4 linked regions of the Homo sapiens genome follow. The main gene of each other region encodes a partner of the protein of the gene in region 4 in a complex. Each region holds a gene or a part of one and is shown on either strand. Other genes may lie near its edges.

The links.
Region 1: CC2D2A (region 4) and TMEM107 share a complex: the UniProt entries of both Homo sapiens proteins name them as parts of the tectonic-like complex.
Region 2: CC2D2A (region 4) and CEP290 share a complex: the UniProt entries of both Homo sapiens proteins name them as parts of the tectonic-like complex.
Region 3: CC2D2A (region 4) and TMEM17 share a complex: the UniProt entries of both Homo sapiens proteins name them as parts of the tectonic-like complex.

Annotation. Positions count from the first base shown.
Region 1 is NC_000017.11:8,173,381-8,181,300, reverse strand, and holds the start of TMEM107 (transmembrane protein 107), read left to right. Parts: upstream 1-4,920; 5' UTR 4,921-5,014; coding exon 5,015-5,101; intron 5,102-5,274; coding exon 5,275-5,342; intron 5,343-5,425; coding exon of another isoform or gene 5,426-5,443; coding exon 5,444-5,544; intron 5,545-6,426; exon of another isoform or gene 6,427-6,525; intron 6,526-6,684; coding exon 6,685-6,781; intron 6,782-7,028; coding exon 7,029-7,098; 3' UTR 7,099-7,920. UniProt on the Homo sapiens protein: Plays a role in cilia formation and embryonic patterning. Requires for normal Sonic hedgehog (Shh) signaling in the neural tube and acts in combination with GLI2 and GLI3 to pattern ventral and intermediate neuronal cell types.
Region 2 is NC_000012.12:88,076,065-88,083,088, reverse strand, and holds part of CEP290 (centrosomal protein of 290 kDa), read left to right. Parts: coding exon 1-58; intron 59-712; exon of another isoform or gene 713-776; intron 777-2,693; coding exon 2,694-2,907; intron 2,908-3,859; coding exon 3,860-3,997; intron 3,998-5,170; coding exon 5,171-5,392; intron 5,393-5,744; coding exon 5,745-5,867; intron 5,868-7,024. UniProt on the Homo sapiens protein: Involved in early and late steps in cilia formation. Its association with CCP110 is required for inhibition of primary cilia formation by CCP110.
Region 3 is NC_000002.12:62,503,180-62,510,091, reverse strand, and holds the start of TMEM17 (transmembrane protein 17), read left to right. Parts: upstream 1-3,896; 5' UTR 3,897-3,962; coding exon 3,963-4,062; intron 4,063-6,912. UniProt on the Homo sapiens protein: Transmembrane component of the tectonic-like complex, a complex localized at the transition zone of primary cilia and acting as a barrier that prevents diffusion of transmembrane proteins between the cilia and plasma membranes.
Region 4 is NC_000004.12:15,465,439-15,472,898, forward strand, and holds the start of CC2D2A (coiled-coil and C2 domain-containing protein 2A), read left to right. Parts: upstream 1-4,443; 5' UTR 4,444-4,619; intron 4,620-7,460. UniProt on the Homo sapiens protein: Component of the tectonic-like complex, a complex localized at the transition zone of primary cilia and acting as a barrier that prevents diffusion of transmembrane proteins between the cilia and plasma membranes.

The sequences.
Region 1 (7,920 bases), on a different chromosome or scaffold from region 4:
AACACCAACCTGACCATGTCCCTCCCTGTAGCTGCAAGGCCTGGCTTCATCTGGCCCCTGTTTACCTAACGAACCTCACACTGAACTTTTCTTCCCCTTCCATCACTAGGTTTCTGAAATGCTGCCTTCCTTACTGTTCAACAAACACACTTGGCTTGTTCTCACCATCTTTGCACTTGCTATGTCCTCTGTCTGGAATGCTCTTTCCCTAGATGTTCATGTAGCTGACTCTTTCACTTCCTTCTATTCAGAGACCTTGGAAAACCTTGCAAAAGCAGGTCCTGGATTTTCCTCACTTTTGGCCTATGACAACTTCTTTCATCTGTGAACAGTTATATTTGATGAATCTCTCACTGGGGGAGCTCACCTCTGAAGGTCTAGGTCGAAAATGCATGTAAGTTGCAGACAGAGGGAAGAAAAGCATGGAGAGTTCGTCAGTCTTTTTTTTTTTTTTTTTTTTTTTTTGAGACAGGTCTCACTCCTGGCACTCAGGCTGCAGTGCAGTGGTGTGATCATGGCTCACTGCAGCCTCCACTTCCTGGGTGCAGGTGAACCTCCCACCTCAGCCTCCCAAGCAGCTGGAACTACAGGTGTGCACCACTATGTTTGGCTAATTTTTTGTATTGTTTTGTAGAGACGGGGTTTTGCCATGTCGCCCAGGCTGAACCTTCAGTCTTTTTATCTTGTCTCCTAAGAACGTTTGAATGCTTGCTATGCTGTAATTTCTGCATTGGAGAATACAGGAAGCTCATCTCTCATTGTAAATTAGGTGTCATTACTATCACTCATTTTAGGAATCAAATGCAATGGGGGTCATTTCAAAGGAGAAAACTTAATGGGTTTCCTTGTCCATCCTGAGAGCAGGGAGGTTTGAAACTATCTTCAGAACTTTGAAGGGGTCCAACAGTTAAGAAAAGAACTGGCCGGGCGTGGCGGCTCACGCCTGTAATCCCAGCGCTTTGGGAGGCCGAGGCGGGTGGATCACCTGAAGTCAGGAGTCAGAAGTTCGAGAACAGCCGGGCCAACATGGTGAAACCCCGTCTCTACTAAAAATACAAAAATTAGCTGGGCATGGTCGCGGGTACCTGTAATCTCAGCTACTAGGGAGGCTGAGGCAGGAGCATCACCCCAACCCACAAGGCGGCAGTTGCAGTGAGCCGAGATTATGCCATTGCACTCCAGCCTGGGCGACAAAGGTGAAAACTCTGTCTCAAAAAAAAAAAAAAAAAAAAAAAAGGGAGGGGGGTGCCGGGTACGGTGGCTCACGCCTGTAATCCCAACACTTTGGGTGCCGGGAGACTGAGGCGGGCAGATCACGAGGTCAAGAGATGGAGACCATCCTGGCCAACACGGTGAAACGCGGTCTCTATTAAAAATACAAAAATTAGCTGGGCATGGTGGCGTGCGTCTGTAGTCCCAGCTATTCCGGAGGCTGAGACAGCAGGATCACCTGAGCCAGGGAGGTCGAGGGTCACTGTAGTCATGATCATACCCCTGCACTCCATCCTGAGTGACAGAGCAAGACCCTGCCTAAAAAAAACAAAGAGAGACTTTGTTGAACCTCCTTTAAAAAAATAATAATAATAATAATAGTAACTCCTCAGTAAAGTTTAGAAAATCACAAGCTTTTATTTCATGGGGATAAAAGCAAGTTTTGGTGATTACATTGTCTCCAATATGAAGAAAAGGCTGTGCTGTCTTTTAAAGAGATGGTTTATATGAAAATGTCATTACATAGTTTCAATATATAGGAGTTCAACATTTTAGGGACCCTCAATCCTATAAATCATTCCATTTTTTTTCCAATTTCTTGTCTTAATAATACAATATAAGACTCCGAAAACATTAATGTTTATTGTTTAAAACTTTTTTTTTAAGACGGAATCTCATTCTGTCACCCAGAGTGGAGTGCAGTGGTGTGATCTCAGCTCACTGCAATCTCCACCTCGTGGGTTCAAGAGATTCTCCTGCCTCAGCCTCCCGAGTAGCTGGGACTACAGGAGCGTGCCACGATGCCTGGCTAATTTTTGTATTTTTAGTAGAGACGGGGTTTCTCCATGTTGGCCAGGCTGGCCTTGAACTCCTGACCTCAGATGATCCACCCGCCTCGGCTTCCCAAAGTGCTGGGATTACAGGCGTGAGCCACCGCGCCCGGCCTAAAACTTTATTAAAAAGATATCTATGTATGTATATATGTGTGTGTGTGTGTATATATATATATATATATATATATTTTTTTTTTTTTTTTTTTTGAGTTGGAGTCTTGCTCTGTTGTCCAGGCTGGAGTGCAGTGGCGCAATCTCGGCTCATTGTAACATCCGCCTCCCGGGTTCAAGCGATTCTCCTGCCCCAGCCTCCCGAGTAGCTGGGAATACAGGTGTGTGCCACCATGCCCGGCTAATTTTTTTTTTTTTTTTTTTTTTTGTATTTTTAAATAGAGACGGGGTTTCATCATGTTTGTCAGGCTGGTCTCAAACTCCTGACCTCAGGGGATCCGCCCGCTTCGGCCTCCCAAAGTTCTGGGATTACAAGCGTAAGCCACCATTCCCGGCCTTTATTATTGTTTTAACAGAGAGAGGTGTCTCACTATGTTGCTCAGACTGGCTTCAAAGTCTTGGGTTCAAGGAATACTTCGCCTTGGCCTCCCAAAGTGCTGGGATTACAGGCATGGGCTTTTGCTTCTGGTCCCAGAGTGCATTTTCTTTTTATTTCTTTTCTTTTTTTTTGAGACGAAGTCTTGGTCTGTTTCCCAGGCGGGAGTGCAGTGGCACGATCTTGGATCACTGCAACCTCTGCCTCCCGGGTTCAAGCACTTCTCCTCCCTCAGCCTCTGGAATAGCTGGGATTAGAGGCGGGCGCCACCACACCTGGCTAACTTTTTAACTTTTTTTTTTTTTTTTTTTTCAGTAGAGATGAGGTTTCACCATGTTGGCCAGGCCGGTCTGAAACTCCTGACCTCAGGTGATCTCCCTGCCTCGGTCTCCCAAAGTGCTGGGATTACATGCCTGAGCCACCGCTCCCGGCCAATTTTTGGCCAAAGTTTCTAAAATAAAGTTTAAGGTTAAATGTCCGGCTGGGCGCGGTGGCTCATGCCTGTAATCCCAGCACTTTGCAAGGCCGAGGCTGGCGGATCACGAGGGCAGGAGATCGAGACCATCCTGGCTAACACAGTGAAACTCCGTCTCTCCTAAAAACACAAAAAATTAGCCGGGCATGGTGGCGAGCGCCTGTAGTCCCAGCTACTCAGGAGGCTGAGACGGGAGAATGGCGTGAACCCGGGAGGCCGAGCTTGCAGTGAGCCGAAATTGCGCCACTGCACTCCAGCCTGGGAGACAGAGCGAGACTCCGTCTCAGAAAAAGTAAATAAATAAAATAAAACAAAATAAATGCTCTATTTTAATAGAATTATAAATGCCCTATTTTTATAGAATTATAATTCTAGCGTTTCTTTTTTTTTTGGAGACGGAGTTGCGCTCTTGTTGCAGAGGCTGGAGTGCAATGGCGCGATCTCGGCTCACTGCAACCTCCACCTCCTGGGTTCAAGCGATTCCCATGCCTCAGCCTCCCGAATAGCTGGGATTACAGGCACGCGCCACCACGCCCGGCTAATTTTGTATTTTTAGTGGAGACAGGGTTTCAGCATGTTGGTCAGTCTGGTCTCGAGCTCCTGACCTCAGGTGATCCGCCCTCCTAGGCCTCCTAAAGCGCTGGGATTACAGGTGTGAGCCACAGTGCACAGCCCGCTTTTCCCTGTTTGTAGCGCCTATTATCTTACGGATTTATTTGTTTGCATGTCTGTTGTTGATCTCCCTGACTAGAATACCCTTACTAGGTAATCAATAAACATATACAAATATTTGTTGAAGGAATGAGAAATGCCTCTTGGGCTTGTAGTTTAGGCTGGCTAAAAGCACTGAGATGGGGAGTGGGGAGTAGGAAGAGATTGTTCTCCTGGGAGATGGGCCGGGAGGTTCCTTGAGGATGGGACTTGACTCAGCAATTAAAGAACTTTCAGATCTGCAGGGACCTGCGCTGAGGCCCAAAGGTCATGAGGTCGCCGATGATAAGAGCTTCTTGGACTGTAGCTGGGCAATGTCGGAGGCCCAGCACCTCCAAGGGACAAAGAAATCTGAGTTGAGTTTCCCTTCCAGCCGGCTCCAAGCCTCCCAGAGACGCAGGGACTGTCCCATTCCCTTCGTCCACTCCCACTCTTTCCAGCCACCTTGCTCTGCTCTTATCCCCATGCTAGTTTAAGGACGCTGGCCATTTTTTGCACTCTGCAAATCCCTCACCAAACTGAGCAAAGTAGTCTGAAAGAAATCAGTCTTCCTCAAGGAAGGTTCAGGCCTGGGGTCCTCAGACAACCAGGGGCTCCGTGACAATCTGTGACTGCAGAGCAGTCCAGGAACACCGGCCTCTCCAGGTTCGGGTCCCTTGTTTCTCAGGCCCAGCTTGGTGGGAAGCTAAAGGCATGCAGAGGAGGGGAAGGGGAGCGGGTCTGAGTCTTCGGCATGGCGGGGAACTCAGCCCGGCGTGGTGGTGGCAGCGGTCTCAAGTGATCCACAACTGGGCAGCGTAGCTGGGGCTGGGGGCCGCTCCCGGCGTGGGCAACAGCAGAAGCATTGGTGTCCCCAAGCTAGGCCAGGGTGGGTTTCCGTTCATCCGCCCTGCGTGGGCAGATCGGGCGCTGCGGGGCTGTGCCACCTCGCACCCTCTGAGGAACAAAGGGCCTGGCTGCGCGCGGGTACCCAGCCGTTAGGTTAGAAGCGCCTTCGGGTACCCCTGACCTTCGCTGGCCCTGAGAGACCCGCAGCAGCCGGAGAATGTACTGCTCGCGAGGATTTCCGAGAACGCGGCGCCGAGCCCGCGTACACGGTTACCAAGGCAACTGGGCGGTGCCTGAGCGGGCGGGAAGGAGGCGTTCGTCTAGATTTGTCGGCTTGCGGGGAGACTTCAGGAGTCGCTGTCTCTGAACTTCCAGCCTCAGAGACCGCCGCCCTTGTCCCCGAGGGCCATGGGCCGGGTCTCAGGGCTTGTGCCCTCTCGCTTCCTGACGCTCCTGGCGCATCTGGTGGTCGTCATCACCTTATTCTGGTCCCGGGTAAGACCCACGGCTGCACTCAATCCGTCCCCATTCCCATCTCTGAGTGGTCCTAGTCCTACCCTGCCCCCTCCCAGTGTCTTACCCTCTTGGGTTTTCTTGTTTCCCGCCGCCCCCAGGCCTGCCCTGCAGCCTGCCCCTTTTTCACTTCTCTTCCTGTGCCCTGCTCCCAGGACAGCAACATACAGGCCTGCCTGCCTCTCACGTTCACCCCCGAGGAGTATGACAAGCAGGACATTCAGTGAGCTCTTGGGACGGGGTGGCCAGAACGAAGAGGTGGTGGGAGTGGAGGGGTCTTAGAATAAGTCCAAAGGCCTGGGCCAGTCCACTTCCTCTCTGCAGGCTGGTGGCCGCGCTCTCTGTCACCCTGGGCCTCTTTGCAGTGGAGCTGGCCGGTTTCCTCTCAGGAGTCTCCATGTTCAACAGCACCCAGAGCCTCATCTGTATCCTTTCTGCCTGCCCACCTTTCCCACACGACCCACTTCTATCAGGACTCCCTTCAGCCACCTGACACAATAGTGTCTGCTGTAGCCAATCCTTCCAGTTCAAAGATCTTCAACGATGTGCTAAATCCTGCTGTTTACTAGGCACTTAAAATCCCAAAATGAGAGTAAAATACAGTTTTTGGCCAGGCATGTTGGCTCACGTCTGTAATCCCAGCACTGTGGGAGGCGCAGGCAGGAGGCAACATAGTGAGAACCCAAGTCTACAAAAATAATAGGAATAATAAAAACCCCACCGTTTCTTTTTACAATGAGGAGGAGGTAGATACAAATCTGTAATTCAGTGTGATAAGCACTGTGCTATAGAAGTGTGTGAAGATAGAAAGCACAGGCAGGGCGCGATGGCTCACGCATGTAATCCCAGCACTTTGGGAGGCCGAGGCAGGTGGACCACCTGAGGTCAGGAGTTCGAGACCGGCCTGACCAACATGGTGAAACCCCCGTCTCTACTAAAAATACAAAAATTAGTCGGGCGTGGCGGCGCACTCCTGTAATCCCAGCTACTCAGGAGACTGAGGAAGGAGAATTGCTTGAACCCGGGAGGCAGAGGTTGCAGTGAGCTGAGATCGTGCCACTGCACTCCAGCCAGGGCAACAGAGCAAGACTCTGTCAAAAAACAAACAAAAGATATAAAGCACAATGGGAACTCAGAAGAGGCAACGGAAGCGAGCACTGGGAACTCAGAAGAGGCAAAGGAGATGAGGCACATGGGTCAGAGAATTGTGGACCAGGAGGACCAGGACACTGGAGGCTGATTCCAGCGCATATTAAGTCGCTGTCAGCACTCCTTTGTGGCATAGCAGAAGGAGAGCCTACTCTTACCTCTCATCTGAAGGATCCAGGCTGGCCCACAGATAAGGGGTAGGGTAGCCTGAGGTCCGATCTGTGCAGTCACTTCTGGTCTCTCCTCACATGACTGTCCTAAAATTCAGAAGTCAGAGCTGCTGACTCTAGCCCTTGAAACATGGTGAGGGAGCAAGGGATGAACCTGAATGCAGATGCCAGCCCCACCACTGGCCTTTTCTGACCCATCACTGTCTGTCGATCCAAAGACTTTCCTTAATCTCGTGCCTTCCCAAGCCATTGGGGCTCACTGTAGTGCATCCGTGGCCCTGTCCTTCTTCATATTCGAGCGTTGGGAGTGCACTACGTATTGGTACATTTTTGTCTTCTGCAGGTGTGGTAGCATCCAATATTTGGGGATGAGGGAGGAAGGTTGGCCCTAAACCTGAAGGTTTTTCCCCTACCCAGCCCTTTCCTCCATGTGTGAGATACCAGATCCACTCAACATCCTGTAGGCTTTTAAAGTTTCATCCCCTACCCCCCATGCCACCTGCCCTACACTTTCAGAGGTGGGGTCTCTGGTTTGGAGATTTGGGTATTTATACTGAAAGGGTTTCTGAATCTACCACTTGCCTTGGTAGTGCCCTTCCAGCTGTCACTGAAATGGCTTTATTCGTCACCGTCTTTGGGCTGAAAAAGAAACCCTTCTGATTACCTTCATGACGGGAACCTAAGGACGAAGCCTACAGGGGCAAGGGCCGCTTCGTATTCCTGGAAGAAGGAAGGCATAGGCTTCGGTTTTCCCCTCGGAAACTGCTTCTGCTGGAGGATATGTGTTGGAATAATTACGTCTTGAGTCTGGGATTATCCGCATTGTATTTAGTGCTTTGTAATAAAATATGTTTTGTAGTAACATTAAGACTTATATACAGTTTTAGGGGACAATTGAGATGGCTGAACTACTGAATAAAAAAAAAACAACGCTGTTTTCTAGTCCTGCAGACCGTAAGATACTTGGTATCGCTTCTATTTTGGTTACTACGGTAGGTGCCTGGCGGAAGGGAGTGGGCGGAGATATGTAAATAGAAAGTGCGTACAGTTAGAACGTCCGGCACGTAACTGATCGGAGCATTCTGGGAAGAAGTAATTTATTCCTTTTCGGCAGCCGAATGAAAAAAAAATTTAAAAAAATGTGCGAGCTAATATGGCAAAACAACTGGAAGGACGCTAAATAATAGGATTGCTCATACCAGCGCGTTATGAACTCACCCTAGCTTGTAACGGAATCTTTTTCACTGAGTGCAGAATGTCGGCTGTTTGTCTGTATCGTCAGGTGGGATAATCCTTACCTGTTCCTCCTCCGGAGGGCAGATTAGAACATGATGATTGGAGATGCATGAAACGTGATTAACGTCTCTGCGTAATCAGGACTTGCAACACCCTGATTGCTCCTGTCTGATTCTTTCTGACGATCACTTACATTTGTGTTATGCTGATTAGCAGATATCCACAAACATAGCTATGAAGTTCTGA
Region 2 (7,024 bases), on a different chromosome or scaffold from region 4:
AGAGACAAAGAGAAATCACTGAATTAAAAGTAAAAGAATTTGAAAATATCAAATTACAGTAAGTCTTCGAAATGTATTGTAAAAATAGGCAAATGATAAGTGATATAATGAAGATAAACATAAGTGTTTGCTATGCCAGGCACTGTTCTAAGACTTTTAAGTATATTGTCTCATTTTTATCCTCAGGACTGCTGGTTACATATGTTATCATTTTCCCCATTTTAAAGAGAGGATATGGCCTCAGGAATGCTTAATAGCATGTCTGGGGGTAGATGGGAAAGCCATAATTTGAAACTAGTCAGTCTGACTCAAAAGCCAATACAAATTCTTTTCCAGAATCTCATTTTTACCTTCTTTGAGCCTCAGTTTCATCTTATTTATTTATTTTTATTTTTGAGACAAGGTCTGGCTCTATTTCCTAGGCTGGAGTGCAGTGACATAATCTCAGCTCACTGCAACCTTGACCTTCCAGGCTCAAACCATCTTCCCACCTCAGCCTGCAGAGTAGCTGGCACTACAGGCAGGTGCCACCACACCTGGGTAGTTTTTTTGTATTTTTGTAGAGACAAGGTTTCTCCATGTTGCCCAGGCTGGTCTTGAACTCGTGAGCTCAAGTGATCCGCCCACTTCGGCCTCCCAAAGTGCTGGGATTACAGGCCTGAGCCATTGCACCCAGCCTCATCATCTTTAAAATGGAAATAATAATACTTACCCTGGCCCTTTCAGGGTGGTTATATGAAGGTCAAATTATACCGTGTATGAAAGTAATTTGAAAACTGTAAAATAACATACAGATAGAAAACTTTTGATTACACACTTATAAGAGTGTCTGTCATATAATAGAGATTCTAAACATTGTTCAACCACTTTATCAGAACGTAGATTTTAAACTCAAAATAGGTTTATAGTTAGGTAGTTTCTAATCATTATAATATTATCTCTATGGGCCTAAATTTTATTATCTGAAAAAACATGAGAAAATTGAACTGCTTGACTTATAATTCCATTTCAGCTCTCAAGCCCCTGCTAGAGTCTTTGATTCTTTACTCACTTATTCAAATGCCTCTGACAGAATTAACACTATTTTTGCTTTGCTAAGGAGCTGCCACTGTTAAGAAATTACTCTCTAAAAGAAAGAAAATTGGCAACAGCATATGTGTATTTTCAGTCTCTTTTCCTCACTCTATTAAATTTTGTACAAGAGATGTTATTTTTGGTCTAGTAAATTTCTGTCATGTTTTGGAGTATAAAATTACTTGTGCTTTTGCATCTAATTTGTGGGTGTAGAAAATCATAATCTTTTGAAATACCTTATATAATACATTTTTTTGCCACAGGAAATACTTGAAGTTATTGTTGTGTACCTTACGTCATTTTAGTCCAAAATTATACTTGTGTTCTCTGTGTGCATATTTTGATATGTATTAGGAGATTATGGATCTGTGTGATTTCTTAAGTAAATCCTGATATTTTCACAATTTGATGATGACTCTTTAAAGTTAGACTTAAGTTTTGCCAAAAGCAAGAAGCCTCAAAGAGTAACATTTGTTCATGTCTTAACACTATCTCCCTCTTATTGGTCAGAATCTCAGTATGGATGCAGTGTCCATATGCACAACAATATATTAATTCAGTTTAACAGACTTAATGCTGAATAAGCAATAAGATTAATTGAATTAACTAAATCTTTTGATAGTATCCACTTCCATATATATAGTTATAGATATAATGCTAGTGAATTTGAACCATAAACAAATTAATAATACATGTGATTTCTGTGAAAATTTATATTAGTCTTTTCAATATGTCAATATAGGGCAGTATTTCTCAAATATAGAGGATCAGTTTTTCACCATTGTCCCTCTTGGGGACATTTGGCGATGTCTGGAGACATTTTTGATTGTCATGGCTCGGGGGTGCTACTGGTATCCAGTGGGTAGAATCAAAAGATGCTGCTAAACATCCTATCATGCACAAGGCAGCCCCACCACCAACAAAGAATTATCCAGTCAAAAATGTTACTAGTAGTATGGTTAGGAAACTATCATATAGAGGAAGCAATCACATTTTACAAGAGCCATAATATTTAAAATGCCTTTTTGTTCATTCTCTGTATATTTGACTAGAGTCACAAAATAACTTGATAAGATTGTTGCCAAAAATATTAGAAACTAGAAGAAAAATGTGTTGTTAAGTCTAAGAGTAGTTAAATGAAATAAAGAATTATTCTTCTTTGGATTTGGATGCCTGCATCAAGATTTAGATTGTAAGGATACTTAGGACTGAACATTTGCTCTATATGAAATTTGTATTAATCAAGGTATGAATTGCAGCAACCACTCTATTAATTACATATGTTTGGCCAGGTGTGGTGGCTCACACCTGTAATCCCAGCAATTTGGGATGCCAAAGCGGGCTTATCACCTGAGGTCATGCGTTCAAACTGGCCTGGCCAACATGGTGAAACCCCATCTCTACTAAAAATACAAAAATTAGCTGGGCCTGATGGTGCACGCCCGTAGTCCCAGCTACTCAGGAAGTTGAGGCAAAAAAATCACTTGAATCTGGGAGGCAGAGGTTGCAGTCAGCCGAGATTGCGCTGCTGCACTCCAGCCTGGGTGACAGAGTGAGACTGGGTCTCAAAAAAATTAAAAATTAAAAAACACACACACACATATGTTTATTTACATCAGGCTTCAAGAAAACCATGAAGATGAAGTGAAAAAAGTAAAAGCGGAAGTAGAGGATTTAAAGTATCTTCTGGACCAGTCACAAAAGGAGTCACAGTGTTTAAAATCTGAACTTCAGGCTCAAAAAGAAGCAAATTCAAGAGCTCCAACAACTACAATGAGAAATCTAGTAGAACGGCTAAAGAGCCAATTAGCCTTGAAGGAGAAACAACAGAAAGTAAGTAACAACAGAAAATTATCAACATTTAGGAAAAATATGTGGTAGATTGCTTTTAGAGAAGATTTGTAAATTTATAAAAGATGGTAGTATAAATCTCCGTGTTGTAATAAAAAGTATGAGCTTTATCTTATGCTGTTAAACAAGGTATTTTAGACAATGCTGTTTTTGTGGGCAGATATAGTCCAATTTATCTTTTTATGTTTTCGTCAATCTGATTTGTGAATTATCTATATGAAGTTAGGAAAAATCTTAATGTACATTACAAAAATATAATATATATTACATTGTATTTTCTTTTTTTCTACTGGAATTTTATGCTACTGAGGCTATTTTTAACAAATGAACAATTTTGAACAATTTGAGGGATTGAGGGAAGTATGATAATGACAAAAAGGGATGAAAAAAGGGGGTCATAGAGATGTTTTTGTGAGAAGGAGTTGGTCAGTGTATTCTGATTTATTAGGGTTTTTTTTAGTTTATCTCAGATTTGATCTATTTAAATTGTTTTAGAAGATGCTGGTGTTTTTCTGTGCTAGCTATGAAATTTATGGGTAAACTTTAAGCCTTTCCTAGTCCTTTTGTTGTCTACCTAAATTCAATTAATTTCATATGGAAGGATGTAGTAAGTGAGTAATATAAATATCTAAAATTGGATGTTTGAAAACAAAACATACCTGTTTTTTGTAATAGCTTGATTTAATGCTGAGTTCTCAAAATCATTATTAAGATTTTGAACTTTCACATTCAATGTGGAAAGAATTGAGTGTAATTACAAAAGATTTATTTGAAAAAGTTGAGTTGTTAATTTGTGAAATATGTTCCATTAAACTCATAATATTTTAGAAAAATAGTAGGAAGTAATAAAGCTTGTTTATTTTTTATATCATATATTCATATAAAATGTCAGTTTTCCTTTAAAAATTACATTTTTTTTTTGGTTAATTTTTAGGCACTTAGTCGGGCACTTTTAGAACTCCGGGCAGAAATGACAGCAGCTGCTGAAGAACGTATTATTTCTGCAACTTCTCAAAAAGAGGCCCATCTCAATGTTCAACAAATCGTTGATCGACATACTAGAGAGCTAAAGGTGAACATCAACACGTGTTAATGTAACAAAATTTCTGATAATTCCTATTGGAAGAGAATTCACTATGATATATAGTAATTTTGTTGATGAATAGGGAATTTATAATGCACTGTTGGTGGCTAGACATAGACACACACATGCATTTTTCAACAATAAGTCTCTTTATGATACTCATTTACTGATTATCATCTTGGGGATTAGGAAAGGATAGGCCATTATGAACTACTGTTTCTAATGAAATTAAATTTAAGAAATATTTTACTTAGGATTTTTTTTAAGACTTTATTATTTTTTTAGAGCAATTTTAGGTTCACAGCAAAATTGAGAGGAAGGTACAGAGATTTCCTGTATATCTCCTACCCTGAAAGTGGTACATTTGTTAAAATTGATGAACCTATATTGATACATCATAATCACCCAAAGTCCAAGTTTACCTCTATTTTAGCTCTTGGTATTTTACACTCTGTGTGTTTAGACAAATGTATAATGATATGTATCCATCATTATAGTATTATACAGGGTATTTTCACTGCCCTAAAAATCTTCTGTGCCTCTCTTCTTCATTCCTTCCTCTGCACCTCACCAAACCCCTGGCAACCAGTGATCTTTTTACTGTCTCCATAGTTTCACCTTTTCCAGAATATGTTATAGATGGAAACATACAGTGTGTCCCCATCATTCTCACCATAGGACAGCTAGGAACTCCTTTCTAGTGGCATACATATTGTCTAGTATTGTAAGTTACCCTTTTATATCTTATCTTTGTAAACTAGGTTAGAAATTACTTCAAGTCAGAGATTTGTTCTGTACTACTCTTATGCTTCATAGTGTTTAAAACGTTGTCATATATATTGTTATATACTTGTTTGTTTAATTAATTCAGCCAAAATGAAACGTGCATATTTGATAAAATTTTGTTTGTGGGTGTTTGTTGAAGATGAATTGCTTTACACTAGTTTTTTTTTTTTTTCTCAAAGTCGACTTTTTTCCTCAAGGTAGACTTGACATGAATATGGAAAAATATATGTAGTTTGTGGTTATTTTTTTTCTCTTGTGTACTTAAAAATTCAGACTGAATTTTTCTTATAATGGTATATTTTCTGTTTTATGTTCCTTTTATCATTGATACTTCTTGAAGAGTCATGAATAATACCTTTCTTTTTCTCTTATTAGACACAAGTTGAAGATTTAAATGAAAATCTTTTAAAATTGAAAGAAGCACTTAAAACAAGTAAAAACAGAGAAAACTCACTAACTGATAATTTGAATGACTTAAATAATGAACTGCAAAAGAAACAAAAAGCCTATAATAAAATACTTAGAGAGAAAGAGGAAATTGATCAAGAGAATGATGAACTGAAAAGGCAAATTAAAAGACTAACCAGTGGATTACAGGTAATTTTATATTTAACTCTGATAATGTCTGATTTACAATATAGAGGTAGTAGTTTATTTCTACTTTATCATTTTATCTATGGTATTTGTTAAAACTGACTTTCAAATCACTTTGATTAATGTAATTAATTTCTTTTGTGACTTCTATTGTGTTTATAGTTCTAGAGTAGCATATTAGTATGTTGTATTAAAATGCAGAAGCAGCTACCAGATTATCTTATGTATTAAGTGTCATTTAGAAAGTATGGTCAGTGATAGCTTCAGAAAGTTGCTATTATATAATTGAAATATTTACTGTCTATTTTGTTTTACATTTATTTGTAAAAATATAAAGTTACATTTTATTTTTTAGGGCAAACCCCTGACAGATAATAAACAAAGTCTAATTGAAGAACTCCAAAGGAAAGTTAAAAAACTAGAGAACCAATTAGAGGGAAAGGTGGAGGAAGTAGACCTAAAACCTATGAAAGAAAAGGTATGTGAAGAAACATACTGACTTATATGCTTAAGGTAGTGACAGAGTAAGTTAAATACATAGCTGATTAACAGTTAATATACTGCCTTAATTTGATGACCTGGCTGTATTAATTCTGTATTAATTTTGAGGACTATAAGCAGTATTGAATAACGTAGAAAAGTCTAAGTTTCTGTTCTGTAGGAATTTAGAGTCTACTTGAGGAGATACCTATAATGTAACTCTTATTTGGAAATTACTACATCAATTTCATTCATCTTTCTGACATTAGAGTACCTCTGAAGTTCCTTCACACCTTAACATATTCAACTGTGTATCATTTCTCTCCAAAGTAATCATTTACACAGGTTGGTGCTTTTGACTTTTGGGACAGAAAGATAGACATTTTAAGATACCCCACTTTGACCCAAATAGGTCCTTTTTAATCCTTCAGGAGACTAGGCTGTTATTTCAGATAGCAAAGTTATTTGGAATATCTTCAGTATTTGCAGTAATAATCAGTAACCAATCTGCTCATAGATTAATTCTGTGGGAGAAATTGCTTAAAATTTTATAGTTCATAGTAAACTGTTTTGTAATAAAAATTACTGATTGAAATAACCCCAAAAAAAACTAAAATTGGCTAAAATGCGTGTAATTAAATTTGTTATGGACAATAAATTGGAGATAACTTGTTGGTAACATTCAAAATATCGAAAGTGAACTGGGAAATGTTGATGTTAGCAGTAATATTTGCCATTGAAGAAAATCAGTATGGAGGAGCTATGGTTAGGAAAATTTTTATTATAAAATTTACCCAGAAAATATTTAATGTCTATAAAATAATTTCAATCACATGAAAATGGAAAAGAAAATTCTGTCTTTAAAGGCATTGAATAGAAAATAGGTAATGGAATTCAAATTTCTTAATAGAGTATGCTCCCAAAATTATTTTCTATGAAAATTCATTAATGTCAGTGTAATTTATTGACACTATTTGCGTGGAGTCACAACATGCTTGCTGTCAGAAGCTTTGCTGGTGAAAACTGTAAGATCAAAGTGTCCTTAATCTTTTGGATTTCCATCTTTCTAACTCCCTAATTGGGGATAGGCCTGATCTTATCCCTAAATGGGGATAGGTTAGAAACTGGTATGTTTGTTCCTAACTGGTGTGTTTC
Region 3 (6,912 bases), on a different chromosome or scaffold from region 4:
ATAATGGCAGGACTCATTCCAAACCACATTTTTTTTCCTCTCAAATTATCTTCTCTAATGTTTTTGCATCATCATTGCCTCTTCCTCTCAATTTATTTTTAACAAGATTTTTTTCTAACTAGAAAATGTACGCTCATATAGGAAATTTGAATAATAAAATTAGAAGGAAAAATACCCATAATTCTATCACTTTTTTTCCTCCAGGATTTTGATAACATAATTACAATCTGAAGAAGGTATCTTGCATCTTTTTTCAATGCCAGGGGAAAATATCTTTAAAATAATTCACTTAGGTTTTTGATAAGAATTCACATAGGTTTTTGGTTAACATAATGGAGTGCTTTAATGCTTAACTGCCTCCACTGTCTTTATTAGGAAAGCAACAGAGGTATTACCTAGCAGGTCCAGTTGAATTTACAAAATTAAATACCAGCATTATTTGACTCCACTCTAGGTGTTGTTTCTTCATAAACTTCATTTTAATTGATGTGTAAATGGTAGCTATCATGTATAGAGAGCCTTAATGATATAATATCACATCAACCACAACAGTAAGATATCATTATTTTTACTTTACAAAACGAGTATCTGAAATCAGTCACACAGCTGTTAAGTGGTACATCGAGAATTTTAGGGTATTTGAACCCTGCCCTCTCAGCTTCCAAGGACATTCTTTCTACTGCAGCCCAACACCTTGCCATAAATATCGTAATCTGCTTAATGAGGCCCTGTGGTTGGGCACTTCAAATGCCCATTCCCCTCTTTTCTAAACAATTATCAATAATGTTGGAGAAGCATTTGGTGTATAAAACTTTGTTTCTATGATTATTTTCCTTTAATAGAGCACGCCTTAAGATTTTATCGTGTTAAAGGAGGCAGGAACGTTTTAAAGGCTATTTCTATACATTGCCGATTACTTGTCTCAATGCGGTTGGCCAAATTATAATTCAACAGCTGAGCCTGAGGCCTCCTGCTTCACTGTTCCGTTTATAAAAAATCTCGGTTCATTTGATAAATGAAAAGTGATTCTCTGTTGCTAAGGTTTTTTAAATTGTTATGATTCACTATGTTTTAATACACCAATTCACCATTTTACAAAGTGAACCTTTTAAAGGGCTAGCTAAGTCCTTGAACTAGAAGGGGAAGACAAGAGAGTGGTCATTAGGCTTTTTCTTCCTTTTACTCACTCAACAGTCATCCAGCTCCTACTCATGGCCAGGTACCACACTGTGCTAGTGTTGGGGATATAAAGATGAAAGTCCATTCTTGACCTCTAAGAGCTTGAGGACTAGCAAGAGACACAGACACATAAACAGACAATTTTAGTATAGAGTGACCAGCACTGTGACCAAAGAAACAAGAGGAAGATGCTTTGGGAAACACAGAAGAGAGCACCTAAGCTATTTCAGGAAGGTCCTAGAAGCCTTTTTGGAGATTCTCAGGTCTGAACTCCATCTTGAAATGAAGCAGAAGTTAACCAGCTTTTCCCTGACATCCTCAACCCGAATTAATTGCTTCTTTAATAATTAAAAGACGTGGTCCTTTAATAGAGCACGTCTAATAACAGTGTTTGCACTTACTTGTTTCCATGTCTCTCTTTCACTGAGCTGTGCTTCTTGATGAGGAGGGACCATATCCCTAATTAGCCTAGCACGATATCCAAATAAGCAGTAGGAATGCAATAAACGTTTGTGTAATTATTTTAAAATTCTAGTCATGAACTTATTTCCACCCATATCTTCTTCTTGCATTTATATAAATGTGTAATTTTCCTTTTGATTGTAAAAATAATACTTTTACCACACACCCATCAGAAGGGCTAAAAGGAAAGGATAAGAAATAACAAGTGTTGGTGAAGTATATGGAGTAATGGAAATATTCACACATTGCTGGAGGCAGCAGAAATTGGTTTGATCACTTTGGAAAACTGTAGGCAGCCTCTACTAAAGCTGGGTCTTTCGTATCCTATGACACGGCAATTCCACTCTCGATATACACTCAACAAAAATGCATGCATATGTTCACCAAGAGGCATCTTTTCCCCAAAGCAGCACTATACACAACAGCTCCAAACTAGAAAATACAGACACTCATCAACAGTAGAATGAGTAAGCTTATTGTGGTATGATCACAAAGAGCAAGGCAAAAGAATCTACACTCAATGACATGAAGGAATTTCATGAAAGTAATGTTGAAGACAAAGCCAGTTTTTTAAAAAAGTACTTACAGTATGATTGCTTTTATATAAATATGCAAAACAGAAGCAAGATGACAAAGGGAGTGTCATCATCTAGAAAGTGGTGCGATAAGATGCACAGCTAGTGCTGCCCTGTGACTCTAACTCCTTCAAAAGTCCGCCTGTGGCAAACGCGGCTACCCTCCCAAGCCAAGATAAAGTATAATTGGAGTGCCGAGGCTAAAAAATATACCAGTGGGACTGGTCGAATGAGGCACTTAAAAATTGTGTACAGCAGGTTAAGGCATGGATTTTTTAAAGGAATGCCACCTAAACCCAAGAGGACAGCTGCTGCAGCATCCAGTTCATCTTAAGAATTTCAGGCCAGGTACGGTGGCTCACACCTGTAATCCCAGCACTTTGGGAGGCCAAGGCGGGTGGATCACTTGAGGTCAGGAGTTCGAGACCAGCCTGGCCAACATGGCGAAACCCTGTCTCTACTAAAAATACAATAATTAGCCGAGTGTGGTGGCGGGCACCTGTAATCCCAGCCACTCGGTAGGCTGAGGCAGGAGAATCACTTGAACCCAGGAGGCGGAGGTTGCAGTGAGCCGAGATTGTGCCATTGCACTCCAGCCTGGGTGACAGAGCAAGATTCTGTCTAAAAAAAAAAAAAAAAAAAAAAATTTTAGATTAGTCACACAATAAATGTTCTGATTTAAAAAAAAAAAGGCAAAACTCTCCTTTGCTGTTAGAATTCAGGAAAGGTCAGTTATGAGTGAGGAGTGGGTTTAGTGACTGAAAGGAAATAGGAAGGGGGAGTTTCTGGGAATATTGTAAAGTTTCTTGAACAGGGTGCTGATTACACATACAGATTTCAGTCTATGTATATATATTACACTTATTTCTTAAGTAATATATATTACTTACAAAAGGTGTACAATTTTTCTGTATGTGTATTACACTTAGTTTTTTTTAAGTAATATATCTTGAGAGAAAGCTAGAAAATAAGACGTTTAAAAATTTTTGAATCACCTACAATCCCACTATCCAGTGAAAACGACTGTTAACATTTTGGACTTTTTTCCAGTTCTTTTTTTCAAGCCAGTGTGCACACGCTCTCTCCTCCCCTCCACTCATACACATAAATTTTGCTAAATTAGGTTCATTCTCATTTAGTTTTATTTCTGCTGTATTTTTACATAAAGTTAAACTATACCATTCAATATCCTTTGCAAGCATTTTATAAGCAGCTGAAACATACTCCATTGAATGTATGTGCTCCAGTACATTTAATCAGTTGCCCATTGCTGTTTTCTTATTAAAAAATAATCAGTCACATGATGTCTCTCTCTCTCACACACACCCCTACACCTCTAGACATTCTTTAAGCTCTGCATTCGTTCTCTATTTCTCTCCAGAAAGGTTGTACCGATTTACAGTTCCACTGGCAAATGTGAGGGCTCCTTGTATCGCAGTCCAACCCCAGCTCATTTCTTAGTATAGGTTTGTTTTTAGGATGGTCGAGCTCAAAGCAGAACTAAGGGATCTGCCGTTTTGTACACGGCCGAGGCGCGCGGCTCCCTGGGCCTGGAACGCGCTCTGAGCGCGCCGGTCCCTTCCAGGTTGCGCGGGCTCCGGACGAGACCCAGCCCAGCCGGGCAGCCCCGCGCGCTCCCGGGTCCCGCCGGCCTCGCGCCGCCCGGTTGCCGTGGGAACCACGGAGCCTCGGAGCGCCCGCAGACTAGCCCGTGTCTGAGGGGGTGAGGGATACTGAGGCCCAGGCATGGAGCTGCCGGATCCGGTGCGCCAGCGGCTGGGAAACTTCAGCCGGGCCGTGTTCAGTGATTCCAATCGGACCGGTCCAGAGTCCAATGAGGGTCCGGGTGAGTGACCGAGGCCCGGTGCAGGGGGTGTGGCCTGCCGAGGGCTTGGCGTGGATTTTGGAGCGTCCAGAATTTGCCCGTACCTAAAATGGCGATGTCGCCTTCAGCCAGTTCTCCGCAGTGCGGGAGAGCGCCTTGGAGGAGGGGCCGGGCCGGACAGGGAGCTGAGGCGCTGGCGGCCTCCCGCCCCCGGCCGGGCCTGGTCTCCGCGTGGTGCTCCCTGGCCAGCTTGTTGCAAGCGCGGCAGCTGACGTGGGGCCGATCTCTGTGCCGCGCAAGGCCCATCATTGTCCCGGAGAAACCCCAAAAATAAAAAGATAAAAGCCGCCCTTGCTGCACAGGCTGGTCCCCCGCGCGCCGCGAGAGCGAAGGCCCAAGTTGTTTTGCCTCTGCGGCGCCCGCCCCGGCTTTTCTGTCCAGGATGACGAGGAATAGCCCAAGCAATCCCACCTCCCCCGTCCCCACCCCCACCCCAGGGAACAAATTTGCCTTTTCCCTTTTCCTAGCAGAACAAGTATGTTCCTAAGCAAGGCCATTTTCTCGTAGAAGACATTAAAAAAAAAAGTTAATGAGTCCTTTCAAACCACCATCCACTCCCACTGGCATGTGCCATACTAGCCGGGCGTTCAACAAAACTCACCCCTTCCCTGCCTTCTCCTCCTCCCCTATATGTAACTCTTATCATAAGGTAACAAAATACCATGATGCTTCTGCGTCCTTTAACTTGATGTCAAGTGATAACACAGTTTCCTCCAGAACAGTTTCCTCCTCCTACATCATGATGGTAGACAACACACTGTCAACCAAACCCATGTGGTTTTCATCATTCAACTCTGCTGGGAAATATCAATCTTTTCCTCTGCTTGGTTTTAGAGAATTTTTAAAAGGGACAGAGAAAAGTAAAGGCAGTTCCCAAAGCTGCATTTTGTCACCTTGATCACTTGCCTATTTCCCAAATGTAGGCCTTTATGATTTAGGATGTACAGAGAAAAATGTGAAAAAAATAGGTTTTCACGTTTCTGGTTCCAAGGATGAGGCTTAATGAGCACTAACGTCTGATAATACAAGGTAAAAAGACGTTTTCTGAAAAGGACCAGATAGTAAATATTTTAGACTTTGTAGGCCATATGGTCTCCACGGCAGCCATTGACAATAGTTATTGAATAGGCAGGGCTGTGTTCCAATAAAACTTTATGGACACTGAAATTTGTATTTCATATGGATTTCACGTGTGGAAAAAATATTACTTTTTTAACCATTTAAACGTGAAAAAACATTTTTAGCTCATTGACTGTACAAAAACAGGCAGCTGGCCAGTTGTTTACCTATCCCTGATTTATATTGTATGTTTTAATTTAAATTCCATTTACAGAACTCAACTTGAACTTTTGCAAAATTTAGTAAGTTTATGTCTTACGCTTTTAAGGTTCATTTACATATTAATTTGATTTTCATTTCCATGATTATAAGTTTGATCTGCTGAAATATGGACATAGCATAACCTTTAAGATGTTAACACACAATACTTCTAACATGAAAACCATTCTTTGCAAAATTTGACTACAGTTTCTTCTCAAAGGTACTGAAATGTTCAGCTTGCCCAATTTATTATTCTTTCCCAAATTTTCTTCTTTGTGGATTGGAAGTAGGTTTGATTATTTGTACTGTAATAACAAGTTTATGTCATTACCATGTCCGCAGCTTTGTACTGTTGCTATCGAAAAGATCCTAGGCTGGTGAGTTGTCTTCAGATTTAACAGATTTTAAGAATTCATTCCTTTATCAGTGGTAATTTAATAAACAGTTGCAAGCAAAAGTAGATCATAATAATCAGGCATATTCTTGGAGCTAAAAGAAACTATTTTGCTGTGAGAGACCATGACTATTTCTTATATTTTAAAATAATTAAGTGACAGATAAAAACACTCAGCTATGGAGAAAAGGAGAAAATAATGTTTTTAAGACATTTATTTTAGAGCCTTTAAAATCTTACGTGTACAGCAACTGATTTCAATATATGTGTCTGCTCTTAAGAATTTAGTCAAATTTAGGATGTATTTTGTAGGGCTCAATTTTAAAAATCAAATTCTTAATCTAGGACCCTGCTCTCTTACATAAAAGCAGAAAGTGTTATGGAATCAACCTTAGGTAAATGGAACTCATGTATCACAAATGGCTATGCTAGTAATGTCCTTATGACAGTATACTTTCATTAATTCATTCTTATGTGTATTTGATATTCACTGCGTGGAAAGCAAGATGCTAGATTCTATGAGGGTCTCAAATTAGGGTAGGACATGGTGTGTGCTTGCAATGAGCCTGTAGATAAGTAGAAGAGAAGAAGGAAAGAGGACTAATATTTGTTGAGTGCCTACTAAGTGTGCCAGGCACAGTGCTAGGATGAAATAATTTATATTGGCTCTAATTCTCACAAACAGCCTGTGAGGAAGTTTTAATTTCACTATTTTACAGATGAAGAAATAGAAGCTCAAAGAGTTTAAATAATTCATGTCAAGTCTGACATCCAGGGTCACAGAGGTTTGGGGAGCTCGGATTTGCTTGAACTCTGAAGCCCATGATCTGTTCAGTACACCAGACTGTTTTTTGGGGAGGGGAGTGTGGTTCTTTGCTAGCACTTCTTATTGACAGTTTAGAGTGGTAAGTACCTAAAGGGGAAAGGTATTTCTGCTGAGGTGGGGGAACTGATGAAGGAAGTATTGATGGAAAAGATGACACTGAATTGGACTTTAAAGAATGGCTAAGATTAGGGTATGCTGAAAAGAGAGATGTGTCTAATTATAACCTTGGTAATCCGTTTTTGTATAAGATTAGTTTATCTGTGGGAGATTC
Region 4 (7,460 bases):
GCTTTTTTTTTTTTTTTTGAGGTTAGACTATCCTTTATCCTAAAATGAGACAAGAACAATACAAGGCTGATCTCAGCTAAGAACATAAATGCAAAAATTTCTAGAAAGTGGTAATTAAATCCAATATTAATTTTTGAAGTATCTTGACAAAATTGAGTGTATCCCAGGAATGCAAGCACAATTTGACATTAAAATGCCTGATAATGCAATTCTCTACACTAATAGATGAAAGAATAAAAATAATATTTAATTATCTCAAAAGATGTAGAAAAAAGCTTGTGATAATGTGATTCAACATTTATTCTTGATGAAAAACTCTTTAGCCAACTAGGAACACTTAACCAAAAGAATGAGATTTTTGTGTTATGATTTAAAATAAATTTGCTAGATTCATTTATTTTGCTTACATAAGAACTTTTGCAAGTAATGGTGTTTTGCAATGATACTTTTTAATATTTTTGGAACTTAAGAAGTTGTATGATTCTTATGAATTAGTTCAGTATTAAAGATCAAAGAGGACGTGCCCAGCTAGCTCTGTTGGCAGACCATGAGACTTTTAAAATATCAGGGAGGTAATAATCAGACGGTTAATTAGCAAAAGAGTGGTGAACAAGTCCTTCCTCTCATGGCAGCTGACCATTTCAAGTAGATAATCTCTTACGGTAAACATTCATATTTTTCTTCACTTAATAAACCTTGCAACATTTACTATGTGCCAGGACTGTCCTAAGTGCTTCACAATTATTAACTTAACAAATTTCCTAACAACTCTCTCTGGAATAGTTACTATTATTAAACCTCAGTTTCCTACAGAGAAGGAAACTGAAACCTAGAAAGGTTAAGAAAGTTGACCGAGATCCCTCAGTTGTAAGACAGAGCATTCAACTTCTTTCTCTCTCCTCTCCTTCTGGTACTGTACTGGATATGGTGGACCTCATCAATTTCTCCCTGTATCTTTTACCTACTCTTTCCTATTTTCAATATCTCTGTGCCACATTTCAATTTTTTAAACCTATCTTTTGCATCTCTTCAGCTCTCTCATCTACAGTTTAGCACATTCTTTGACTTTTATCTAAATTTGTGACTGTATTATTTATTTCTAAAAGTTCTATCTGGTTACTTTTTGAATTTGTCTGATCTTTTTGATAGTGTCTCACTCTTCTTTCATATTTTCAAATCCTCCTTGTATCTTCTTGAATATTTGGTCATTGTTATTTTTCCACTCTCCATCTGATTATTGTATTGCAAGAAACTCTTGAGTATCTAATAGTGTCCTCTGGTTTGTCTGTGGACTCTTGAGTGTTTCTCTTCTGTTGTCTAATTTTGGGTTGTGAGCTCATCTTCCTCTGTGTTTATTTGTGGACATCCTGAATTGTCCAATTGAAGGTGTGTTCCTCCAGAAAAGTTTTGTAATAACTTCTGCCTGGCACCCCACGGGGATACAGTAGACAGAGGCCACTTTTTAAAAGTTATCACTTAGGGGCCTCCTAAAATATATAAGGAGCATAAATAAGACAAACTGCATGGTGCAAACCAATGGTTGTAAATTCTTCATATTTTTCTCACCACATGCAGAATACAAGCCAAGACAGACAAGTTTTCTTATTGTCTTCTTTTACCAGCACGAGATAGTAGATTGTCCCCTTCAATTGGAAAATACATTATTTCATACAGTTGTTCTTGTATTACTCCTTTGGTAAATTATACTTTTCCATTTTCATGGTTCTCTCTTTTTATAACTACAAGCATTAAATTTCCTAGCCTGAGATCCTTTAATGTTTTTTGTAATGCTTTTCTGTAAGGGCAATATGCTAGCTTTGTCATTGGAGGATCCAGAAATGTCAGTATGTAGGGTCTGTGCTTTATAATCATTCAGTTTTTCCAGAAAATAATTTTCTACTTTCTCCAGTTTTGTGCAGGTAGAGGTAGGATGGGGGAGCCAATGGCATGTTCTTGATTGTCTAAGTTCTTGAGAAAGGTTCAGAAAGGGCCCTGCAACATCTTCATTTCATATACAGTTTTCAATCCTGAGACACACTCACTTGCTGCAGTACCTGGGAACTTGAGACCAGAGAGTCTCTGGTTTAACTTCCCTAGAAAAGAAACCGCCAGTCTCCTTTGGGCAGCAGCAGATGAGGCAGATGTGGAGGACGGAAATTATGCCTGAGGAATGGGCATTTTTCAGGCTGCCAAGAAAAAGGATCCTGAGGATCAATCCCTTAATATACAGACTTTCAAATCTTCCTGCATTTTTAGCCCCGTATCTCTCCCCACCTTCCTTAGTCTATGGTTGTATTAGTTTCCTGATGCTGTTGTAACAAAGTACCACACACTGAGTGGCTTAAACAGCAGAAATTTTCTAACAATTCAGGAGACTAGAAATTTGAAATCAAGGTGTGGCAGGGTTGATTCTTTGTGAAGCTTCAAGAGACAGTCTGTTCCAGGCCTCTCTCCTGGCTGCTGATAGCCTTGAGTGTTCCCTGGCTTGGAGATGGTGCTCTCCCCATGTCTTCACGTTGCCTTTCTTCTATTTTGTCTGTCTCTGAATCCAAATTTCCCCTTTTGTAAGGACGCAATCATCTTGGATTAGATCTCACTCTAATGACTTCATTTTAATGTGATTACCTCTGTAAATACCCTATCTCCAAATAAGGTCCCATTCTGAGATACTGAGGTTAGGACTTCAGCATCTTTGGGGATGAGAGAGAACACAATTCAGCTATAACACTGCTGCCCCAAATCCTGGCACAGTAAATCAGCTCATTTCCTCATATTCATGCCTACGTGCACACCCCATCATACACAGACACACACACACATACATACACGTACAGAGACACAAACACAAATACATTGACACATACACATGCATGCAGGCTGTGTCAAAAAATGTACTCTGGATTTGTTTTAATTAGGTATGGTAAGACACACAGACACAAACATGATTGGCACAAAAGAAGAAGTTTATACTTAACAGATCCCTAGAAACAAGAAGCATGGTGTCTTGGTTCGTTTTCTGTTGTTGTAACAGAATACACAGACTGGGCAATTTATAATGAACAGAAATTTATTTTTCACAGTTCTGGTGGCTGGGAAGTCCAAGATCAAGGGGCTGGCATCCTGCAAGGGTCTTCTTGCTGCACCATCCTATGGTGCAAGGCAAGAAAACATGAGAGCAAGAAAGAGAAAGAGAGAAAACGAGGCCAAATTCATTCTTTTATAAGGAATCCACTCCTGCAATAATGGCATTAATGCATTTATGAGGGCAGAGCCCTACAGCCTAATTGCCTCTCATTAGGTGCCACCTCCCGACACCATTGTGTTAGGGATTAAGTTTCCAATACATGCTTTTGGGAAGACACATTCAAATCATAGAACATGGCATGCCACACAGGACCACATAGGGAAGAACCAATGTTGGTCAGAAGGCAGAACGGAGACAGCAGAGTACAGCACAGAGCCTTTACTAGGGTTTTCCCAGGAAGGAATAGGTGAAGCAGGGTAGGGTGCTGCATAAATTTAGGAGTGGATAGCTTGAATAATCGTGGTGTTCTCTGGGCTATAGTGGTCTGGTATCTGGACCTGGGGTGACTTAGGACAGGAGGAATATTGGCTTAGTGTGTGAGAGTTTGATAATGGAGATGGTTGTGTGGGCTCTGGATTGGTTGGCTTGTATATCAAAGGAGACTTTGCATATTTCAGGGGAATCATTTGCTATCTCTAGAAATTAGCTAACATAGGAGAATCAGTTTCTCCAGGATCAAGGCTCCAAATGCCAGAGCATCAAGAATACAGAAAATAAGAAGATACAGTCAATACACATACACACAAACATACACACACCATACACACAGACACAAATACACACAAACACATGTGCACATACACACTAGTCTATTGGAGTGTGTTTCCTTGGCTCCATTCATTCTATTACTCTTCCAGCTACTTTGCCTCCTACCTCTCCCTCTTTTTTTTTTTCCAACTTTTTTGAGCCATAACATTTATATCCGTTTTCAGGAATTGCAGTGGGATTCAGAGAATAGGCAAAGATTAAACTTGTGCGTTCAACCTTCCACTTTTAACTGGAAAACACTCAAGTGCAACATTTGTTGGTACTCTGCAGCACCTCCACAGAGCTTTTGCTGCTGCCACGTTAGACAGCTTCACCATGTAATGACGACCTTTTAAGATTCTAAATCCCCCCACCTCTGAGCCTGTTCTTCATTGGAAATGCAAGACGACCGGATGACATGAGGGAGGGGCAGCTCTTAAGGCTTGACCTAATTTCCAGTGCTGCTCATGTTGATTTCTCTCCGTCCTTCTACTGCAGGCTGTGCGTCTCTGCTTACCCAGCATGCTTGTACTCCACTACTGGAAGTAGCCTGTCACTTTAAAGGAAAAAAAAAAAAGCTACCGAGTGACCTTCCTTAGGAACGGGTTGCTAAGCTGGTGTTTTTGCTCCAAGACATGGCTGCAGCTTCCCAGGGAGGAGCCCAGGGGCATCTCCAACACTCAGCCTTTCCCTCCGGACCCTTTTAAAAGATTCAACAGCACCGTCTCTCTCCACTTCCATCCTAGAATGCAGAATCTGCAAAGTGCCTTTTGTAAAGTTTCTTAAGGTAAATCAGTCCCTAACCGGACTTTAGGCTGCAACAGTGATTTCCTGTTTTCAGTTACCCGGCTTGAAGTTCAGCCTCTCCAGGATACCGTGAGACTGGATTTAATGAATTGTAAATTTAGGGGCTCTCATCGTTATTTATGTTTTTACTTTCTGAAATGGGAACATAGACCATTACTTGGCAGCTTTGATTTGAGCTGCTATCTGGTATCTGGTTTGCAGGAAATGTAAGTCCAGTTCATCACAAGTCCTGAGTGAAAATGCTCTCTGACCAAAGCTCTGTGAAACATTAGCTGCGTGTTGCATTTATGGGCCTTTTAGTTCAAACTGGCTTAAGGGGAGAAGCACTAATTACTGCAAAATACACTTTTCTTGGTATGAGACAGAGAAAGGGCTACTAACCACAGTGCTAAGAGTTGCTGTGCTTTCCAAAGACTTCAAGAAAATGTACTGGCTACAACTTAAGCTGATTGTTTGTTTCCCTTCATTGCAAAGAGGTGGTATGAAAAGCTAATAAAGTCAAATAAGAAATATGTTTGCTACTGCATTTTCATATAACCTTTTCTGCAAATAAATTCAGCACCAGCATGAAATCTCTCTCTCTCTCTCTCTCTCTCTCTCTCTCTCTCTCTCTATATATATATATATATATATATATATATATATATATATATATATCCTAGAGCTCACTTATAGAGTCATTCATTCAAACATTTATGGAGCATCAACAATGCACCAGGCAATGAATTTAAGTTTAGAGTGTGCAAACATAAATTAGACTAGGTCAGAAGCTCAGAATTTGCTGGGAAAACAGACCTATAAACACATGATAAGAGTACAATGAGCTAAGTGCCATAAGAGATTTATAAAAACACTGAGAGGACAGTGGGATGACATCCAGGGAGGGGCTTCCAGTACTTAGCACATCATGTAAATGCACTGGTCATATATCACGTAACACAGCTCAAATATGGTACTCATGTGTACTCTTCAAGGCCAGTGTACATTATATCGAGCTGATTAAATGATTCTATAAAGCTATTGGTCACTAACCTTATGCTAAGGGAAACTGCAGCTGGAATAACTTGTAGAATAAGATAATGTATTCCAAAACAATGTATGTGGCACCTCCCCAGGTGTCCAAGCTCCAGGAGGGAACAGAAAAATGTTCTCAGGGTGTGAGGAAGAAAATACTCATGGGTAGAAGTGCAGGAGGTTTCAGAAGCACCATAAATGGAAACAGCAAGGCAACTGCCCTGGGCCTGGCTGAAGGGAGGGAGACATGAAACATGAGTTATGGTAGCTGGGGGTTGAAGATTGGAGCTGAAGGTGGGTGGGCTTGAACATCACCTAAGGTCTTTCTCATGACTCCTCTTCTATCCCCCAAGCTCTTTTCCCTCCTCATTCCTTTTTTCCACTTTCCCTCCCCACAATCACTTTTTCTTAGTAACAAAACCTACCAATATTGAGAGCCCAGCCTGTGCTAGGCATTTTACTACACACATTTCATCATTTAGCCCTTATAAATTAATCATCCTTCAAGGTAGGAAGTATGATTGCAATGTTGCAGACAAAAAAAAAAAAAACGTGTCTCAGAGAAGGGAGGGCATTGTTCCAAGATCACACAGCTAATAAATAAAGCTGAAGTTGGAACTCAGGTCCACATATTCCTTGGCAAAGAAATATGTGGACCACTCTTCCTATAAACCCATGTTTTTGCCATCCTGGAGTAGGGCATATATATTGTATGATTTTTTAAGCAACCAATATGGAGTTGAGATGCGTTGTATCTCAACCTCCAGGTATGGCTCTGACCCACTGATGACTCTTAGGAATAGTCCATTTATTCAGATGAAGGTGTCAGTACTTTCCTTGAAAAAATATATCTGGTTTTCTGCACTGAGTAAAATAAATCATTGGCTTAATGTAGCCTAAGCCTTTTCTCACCAGTGCAATGCTTCACAGCTTTCAACTGTAAATATTTCCAGAATAGCCCACTATTCTGGAAAGCACAGAATAATTATTGATGCCATTGCAAAAGCAAGAATAAATGGTGAGATGGAGGGGTAGAGTGGAGTGAGGGAGGACTCAGGAATCACAGAGTCTTGGGATCAAGTTCTGAATGTGACATTTAATAATTATAACTTTGGAAAAATCATGTAAATTGTCAGAGCCTCAGTTTACTCATACGCAAATTGGGGCACATACTACTAAGCCAGACATGTTATTGTGAGGACTAAAGAGAACATGTCTATAGTTAGCACAAAATAAGTGTGCAGTAAATCATAGCTATTTTGATGTTGCCAGTAGGAATATATTAACAAGTACCAGTGCATAAGATGATGGCAAACTGCATATTAAAACCAGGCAGTATTGATTTATCTTTTCTTAGCAACAGTGTTCATATAAAAAATAAATTTCGGTGTCATTTGATTTCCTTAGAAACTCATTTAAAGGAAATGATCAGGAAAGAATGAGGAAAAAAGAAAATCCCATTACATTTTTCATTTTCTACTTCTATTTTTTTCTTCCATATAAAGCATTTATTAACTTATAGAGAACTTTTTTTAGTTACTAAAATGTTTCACAGGTTTTTTTTTTTTTTCAGTTTGCAATGACCAGAGTTGTTCATTAGAGAGCTCTCATGTACTTTTGCATTTCATCTTTATTATCTGCCCCCTCATTCACTCTAGGTTATCTCCTTGCCTCTCTATTTTCTTAGCTGCTTTTACATTTTCCTTCCTCTATTTTTTGTACCCTGTGATGAGGTTTGTAGAGAAGACAATAGAATTTCAGATGCTTTATTTCCCTTTAACATGCTAATTCCCCTGTAGGGTCAGTG